Homo sapiens: one gene and its partner. The protein of the gene in region 2 interacts with the protein of the main gene of each other region in a pairwise test. Each region holds a gene or a part of one and is shown on either strand. Other genes may lie near its edges.

Region 1 (3,210 bases), on a different chromosome or scaffold from region 2:
TGTAGGGAAAACCTCCAAGGGAAATATGGTTTCTCTTGATTCAGAATGGCTACGGGGTGATACGCATGAAGTGATTTTACCCTGAATTATTTAACTGTTGAATTTATAGAATATACCTGCTAGAGATGATTATGGATCAATTTCATGCCAAAGCCTACATTCTTTCATTTGAGTCCAAGTATAATTTTCATGAAACTATTAAGAGCTGTGAGATGTAACAGTTGGAAACTACTACCCGTATATAGCACATTTTAAGTCTAAAATAGGATATTGGAAGCTTAAGTATAAAGCAATCTAGAAAACATGACTCTCCTGCTTTCATACAGACCATTGTGATTAAATACTTTTCCAGGCTCTCTATTTTCAGTGATCTCTACCTAATGTATCTTTCCCGATTATTGAGATGTATTACTAGACCTAACACACACAGCCAGGGTTTTACAATCTTATAACCTATACGTTATTAGAATCTCCAAAAAAAAAAAAATATTAAGAATAGGCAAGGATTCTGGCCTCTTAAGGCTCTTACTCACTCAGAAGCTAATTTCCATTGTTATGTCAAAATTAAATTTCCTATAGAATTAGTCAATACATATAAAATGAGAACATTATGCTTTTTGTCAAGTTTCCAAAAGTATGTGCTCAAGCTTCACATCATATGAGCATTTATAACAAATTAACCTTCTGGAAACTGTCATTGATGATCTCAGTGACAAATTTACAAAAGCAGAGTTAAATTTAATTCAGCTCTGTTAAGAAAGGGAAATTGGCCAATATGGACATAAATAGTTGTTTCCAGAGCTTTCAATTTGCAGAAAAACACCACCTTAGGTTGACAAGTCATACCTCCAATGCAGCTTTTTGTACAGTGATTTGGCTATAGACTCTCGCCCCTTCAGGGCAGACTGTCCTCAGTTCATCCTTATTGAGAGAGAAAAGTTGTGCACCATTTAATACTCCAAGACTATTGACAGTCCTAAAAAAAAAAAAAGGAAAAAGAAACTGAGCATTAAAAATATTGCCTACAAACAAAGGAGAAAATTATCTGTTCCTGCTAGTAACTTCTCTTTTCTAAGCGTTCCATACCCTGGAACCCTTATTAAATGCCACTACAGTCTTTATAGTTAGGGCAATGACAAGTTTCTTTCATGATGATGACCCTGAGGCTATACAGATTATTAATTACAAAGTATCAAAAATGAGCCAATTCGGTTTAGGGTCATTGTTTAATACCAATTCTTGGGATTTGGTGTTTTATAGAAGGAATAGATAACTTTCTAGTAACCTGGCAATTGACTAACCATTGTATCTCATTTTTCAATCATGCTGGGTAGGTGAGTTTATAATATGTCAAGGTCCCTTGAATATGTATTATTCTAATAGTTCATTGTGCCAAATACATATGAAATGTTTATAGACTTTTAGATAGATAAATAGAACCTTTACTATGGGTTTATTAAAGGAAAAGTTCTATTAAGATTATAATTGATGCTAGGTAACACTATTTTTTATTTGCCAGAGACACTATATCCTGCAGCAGGAGGAAAGCTTATGCTCTATGTCCTATGTGGTCTAGGAAGTTCAGCTAAGACCATGGTCCTACCTAGGTTACATCACAGTAATCTGATGGAGAAAAGAAGCTACTGGGCCTCAAAGCTGCCAATAGTTTGCTTAAAGAACTAATAATGAACAGATACTACCAATTCGAAAATGGGGTGGCATCAGAATAATTATTTATGCTTATTTTAGTTCTTTTTCAGCTATGAACAGCTATAGTGAGTTCTTGAGTATGGCACAAAGTATGCAGTCTGTGCCCTTATGTTTTATAACAGTTATCTGTGACATCTAACTAAGCAAATTGAAAACAATGCATGTTGTACACACAGAATTGCAAAGTATTCACAGAGAGACTCACACAGGGTTGAATCCCTTTGACTGTAACCACGTCTTCACATCCTCTGGTGTGGAGTCGTAAGTGATATTGATAACTGGCACGTTCTGCCGTGGCACATGGAATTTCTTCTGAGCGGCACTCCGACCAATGGTCAGTCTGTGGATGAGTTCATCTTGCACTTCCTCCATCTGAGATTTCCTTCCTAGACACCAACAGGGAGTAGGTTCTTTTTGAAAATCCCTAATATTACATCACCCTCTCTAGAACCCCAATCTCTATAATCCTTGACCCCAGTAGGACCTACAGTCTAGTGTTCCTACCATCTTTCCTCACTTTTATCCTCGCCTGGTATAAATGCCATGATCAATTATTAAAATAACTCCCTGGCTCTTCTCTAGTCTCTTCATTGTACTCCTTTGGCAAAACCCCAATCCTGGTTAAACCTAACTTTCTGCGTATTCTGTGCCTGCACCTGCACAGCTGAATATAACACAACAATGCTGAATGATCTCATGTTAAATTCATGATTATGAACCTTAACTTGGCTGTTAATGCTTCCTGACAATTATACTACATTTCCTTAGACTGGTGGCTCTCAACTGGGGACAGTTTTGGCCCCAGAGGACATTTGGGAATATCTGGAGACACTTTTGGTCGTCACAATTGAGGGAGAAAAAGGGGAAAGGCTGCTGCTGTCACACAGTGGGTAGAAGCCTGGGATGCACACAACATTCTATAATGTCAGCCTCTCCTACAGCAGAGAATAACCCAGCCTCAAAGGCCAAGAAGTCCTGCCTAAGGTCATGTAACTGCCCACTGTCTTAGACAAGTATTGAATATATTCTACTTTCTCTCTACAAACTTCTAACCCTATTCCCCAATCCTCACCTTGAGCTGATCTCATTTCCTAATTTATGAATAAAATAGTTAGAAGAAAACCTCCGTAAGTTCCTCTAGTAGTTCTTCCTAACAGCACTTTCCCCATATGTTCTGCCTGCCTTCCTATTATGTTATATAAGAGCTGTTTCCCTGCTCCCAAGGCTAACTATCCATGTATGCACTAGGCCTCAAGTTCTCTGCCTATTCAAATACTGAGTCATTTCTCCCTTATTTATCCTGTTATTAATTTTCCTTCTTCACTGAATCAGTTCATCAGCCTGCAAACATGCTATTATTTTATGATTTCTGTTACCTTTAAACAAGTCCTTTTTACCATGTCCTTTCCCAGCTACTGCCCATTTTTCTGCTCCTTTTACAGCAAAGTTCACGAAAAGTTGCCTGTACTAGTGGACTCCAATTCCCATTCTCCTATTTTC
Region 2 (3,833 bases):
ATTGTGCAATTTGCCACCATTTTTGACTATAGCATTCATTTTTATGTAGTCAAGTTTATAATCTTTTCTCTGTGATTTTGTCTATATAAGCTAAAAAAAATCTCATTACATTTTTGAGGTAAAGTTCCGATTCTTTTTTTAAAATTTTGACTTATTAGGAATTTATTTTGATGTATAGTGTGATGTCATGAGCTAAAAATCTCAAAAATCTCAATTGTTCCATTTATAACAAACGTTTGTTAACACATTTATAACTGATTTACAAACAGATATTTACCAGTCTTTTTTGATTTAACACTTGTTCTAAAAGAGTAGGTCTTGCAGGACGATCCCCAAAAGATCCTGTTCTTTGTTTAACAATGGAGAGTATGTTATCTGCACTTTCCTGGGATAAATGATAAAAATGCAAATAGATAAACAGTTAACGTAATAAGTCATGATTACAGGTATTTCAAAGATGTAATGAACAGGTCTTTGCATTTCTTCCTTCTTCTTGCCCAGTCTCTGGGCAACTCTGGGAAAGTTCTTCATTATCATAGGCAAAGTATTGGCAGTTAATTTAATGTAACATTCCTCCTCGCTCCCTCTCCCCCCAGATTTTCAACCTGGGTTCTTTAGTCTCTTGGCAGGTCTCAAAATTAATAGTGTGTGTGATAGAGTGTGATATAGTAATACTGTGAGAGGTGGGCCACTAAGATTGAGGCAGAGTTACTTGTGAGCTATTTTCAATATTACAAAAAATGCCAAGTGGAATTGACCATTCTCTTTATATAATGCTATCCAGGCCGAAACATAATCTGCTTGCCTTTGGATGAAATATATGAACTCAGAGGCAAATTATATACTGCTCAATAAGATATCTGATAGCTTTTTACCCAGTTGGCAACCAAAACAAATGGGGGAGTAGTAAAATATTGTTTAAAGAAGCAACTGATAACCAAAGCTTTCAAAATTTAGATAAACTTGCTTGAAAAAGCACTAGTATAAATAGTCTCCTGCCAACTGTATGAACAAAACAGGTAAGTCCTAAAATGATACCATTACCCTGAGATTTCACTGCCCAAAAACAAAATCAGCAGCACTTATTACCAAATATGTACCCCCAGTTACCTGACAGCATCTTAAATACTTGTAATTTTGCTGGCATAACAAAATATTGTTTAGTTGACTGAAATATTCTGACTCTTACAAAACTATGCCACAATACCACATCCAAAATTCTTACTAAAGTAGCAAATATAAAATTATAAATGTTTTACCGGAAAGCCATACCTTACATGAATTTAACCTCTTTGTTCTTTACTTAGAATATTATCTATGCTGTTTTTTCTCTTGGGCTTCTTTCTACTGGCCTCTGAGTTATCTATGAGAATATCCCCTTAATTTCTTTCATTATGAGAAGTTTACCAACCTGATATTACAAAAATATTTCACCCCTAAACATTTTAGGCCTCAACATATAAAAACTGTAAAAAGAAAATTCTAATACCCAGAGGAAACAAAAATAATTTCTTCCTCCTCCAGCAACCCCCAAGTTGATTTTATTTATGAGATTCTTTCATTTTTATGTGCAAGATAATGGAATGCTGAAATTGACTTGATGGTACAGTACCCTCTGCCCTCACAACCCCACTATGGAAATTCAAAAGGTTAATTCACAAAATATTAGATACTGAATTAGATAAAGAAGCTTGTAGTGAAAATAACCTTTAGTCATCTAGTCCAAACTTGTACAGATGTTGGAATTCTTTTTCAAAAACCTGCAATGCTTTTTGTCCTACAGAGTTTACCAACTTTTGCCACATTTCATTTGGTTTTGAATAGCTCTAACATTTCGGTAGAATGTTAGGTAGCTTTACTTAAGCTGAGCTGAAATACATACTCCTTGTGATTTATGCCTAAGAGTCCTAGTTACCTCAGAATCATGCCATATAAGTCTACTGCTTCTCTTAAATGATAGCTTTTTAGATATTTAATAAGAACAATCCCACCAGCAGAGGTCAATTCATTTATCCCTAGTCCCTTTATGTGTCTCTCATATAGCATAGTTCTTAGATTGGTGGAGTAGACATTATACACATTTGTTCCTCATTTAACCTTGACTTGTGTAAGAAATATTAATTTTAGATACCTTAATTTCTTTAATTTTTTTACCTTAATAAATTCTTCATTGGAATAGAGAACTTAATTTCTAATCTTGCTGCTCACAACATAGCAGAAGACACCATCATCACCTGTCAGTCCTACTATAATAATCTTCGAAAGAGTCTCAAAATCTATAGGCTCTCAACTTTAACCCACTCCATCAGGGTAGGATCCTCTGCTACTTCCTAATTAGATCATTTCATTTAAAGACTCCAAATCCAAATCCCATAGCCTGGCATTCAATACTATAAAAAACTGGCTTCAACCTATCTTTCCAAATTTCTCTCTCATGAATTTTCCACTCAACTATTTTAGCTAGAATAGTCCACTTGCTATCTTCACAAAAGTGTTTTCTGTATTCCTACTTCTCTTTCTTTACTAAAATGTGCTTCTCTTTCCTTTTATCTACCAGAATTCTAGGGAAGCAGTATAGTAAGGAGGTAAAAGTGAAAGCTCTAGAATAAGACTGCTTGCGTTTGAGTACAATACTTGCTGGCTGTATGACCTAGGCCAAATTCTTTAGCCTCTCTGTGCCTCAGTTTCCATGTATGTAAAATATAGTATCTATCCCATTGCTGAAGGGTTGTGAGACTCCATTTATAGCTTAACACAGTGCTTGACACATAAGAAACTCAGCTCATTAAGCGTAAACTATTGCCCATCCTTTCTGGTTTATACTGAGTCACGTTTCCTCTGCAAAGCCTTTCTGGAGTATCTCAGCCTACAATGATCTATCCTCCTCTGAACTACTAAAACCGGACTATACAGTTGGCTCTTATTATATCCTGGCTGGCACTGTTATTTTCTTTACACTCAGTTTAACAAAGATAAAGATTTACAGATCTTGTTACCTCCTCAGAACTGATAAAGTATCCCAAAATATAAGACAAACTGGATAGTAAACTATTAGTATTATTTGTTGCTTATAGCAATTAATTCCCTTCCATAAAAAGTCATGCAAATTATTTTAAAATAGTGAAGCTAGGTGCAGTGGTGAAATAATCCCAGTTACTCTGAAGGCTGAGGCAGGAGGATCACTTGAGCCCAGGAATTCGAGGCCAGCCTGGGCAACACTGTGAGACCCATCTCTAAAAAATTAGATAAGTAAATAAATAACAAAATAGTAATAAGGTTCTTTTTGTGGGAGGTGCAGAGGGAGACGCTAATTCAGTATCTATCTGCCTTTTATACATTTTCCTCACTGTAGATGTAAATGTTAGGTAGTTTAAAAAAAAAAAAGTAAGCAGCCATAGGTTAACTACTTCTTTCTTGAAAATAAGTATTATTAGGCCGGCGTGGTGGGTCTCACCCGTAATCCCAGCACTTCAGGAGGCTGAGGTGGGAGGATCAGGAGTTCGAGACCAGACTGGCCAACATGGCAAAACCGCGTCTCTACTAAAAATACAAAAATTAGCCGGGCGTGGTGGTGCATGCCTGTAATCCCAGCTACTCAGGAGGCTGAGGCACAAGAACTGCTTGAACCCAGGAGGTGGAGGTTGTAGTGGGCCGAGATCGCACCACTGCACTCCAGCCTGAGCGACACAGAGTAAGACTCTGTCTCAAAAAAAAAAAAGAAAGAAAAAAAGTATTATTTTTCTCCCTCTCTAAAGAATTCTGAAGTGAATGGGCACCTGTGGAACATACTGAGGAAGAAACTTGATCACCTTTACTAACTTTCATTCTTTTCC

The links.
Region 1: the proteins of RFXAP (region 2) and EPS8 interact in a two-hybrid assay, tested with the Homo sapiens proteins (one large-scale study listed by BioGRID and IntAct).

The regions. Positions count from the first base shown.
Region 1 is NC_000012.12:15,622,312-15,625,521, forward strand, and holds part of EPS8 (epidermal growth factor receptor kinase substrate 8), read right to left. Parts: intron 2,097-3,210; coding exon 1,916-2,096; intron 977-1,915; coding exon 847-976; intron 1-846. UniProt on the Homo sapiens protein: Signaling adapter that controls various cellular protrusions by regulating actin cytoskeleton dynamics and architecture. Depending on its association with other signal transducers, can regulate different processes.
Region 2 is NC_000013.11:36,821,980-36,825,812, reverse strand, and holds part of RFXAP (regulatory factor X-associated protein), read right to left. Parts: intron 386-3,833; coding exon 278-385; intron 1-277. UniProt on the Homo sapiens protein: Part of the RFX complex that binds to the X-box of MHC II promoters.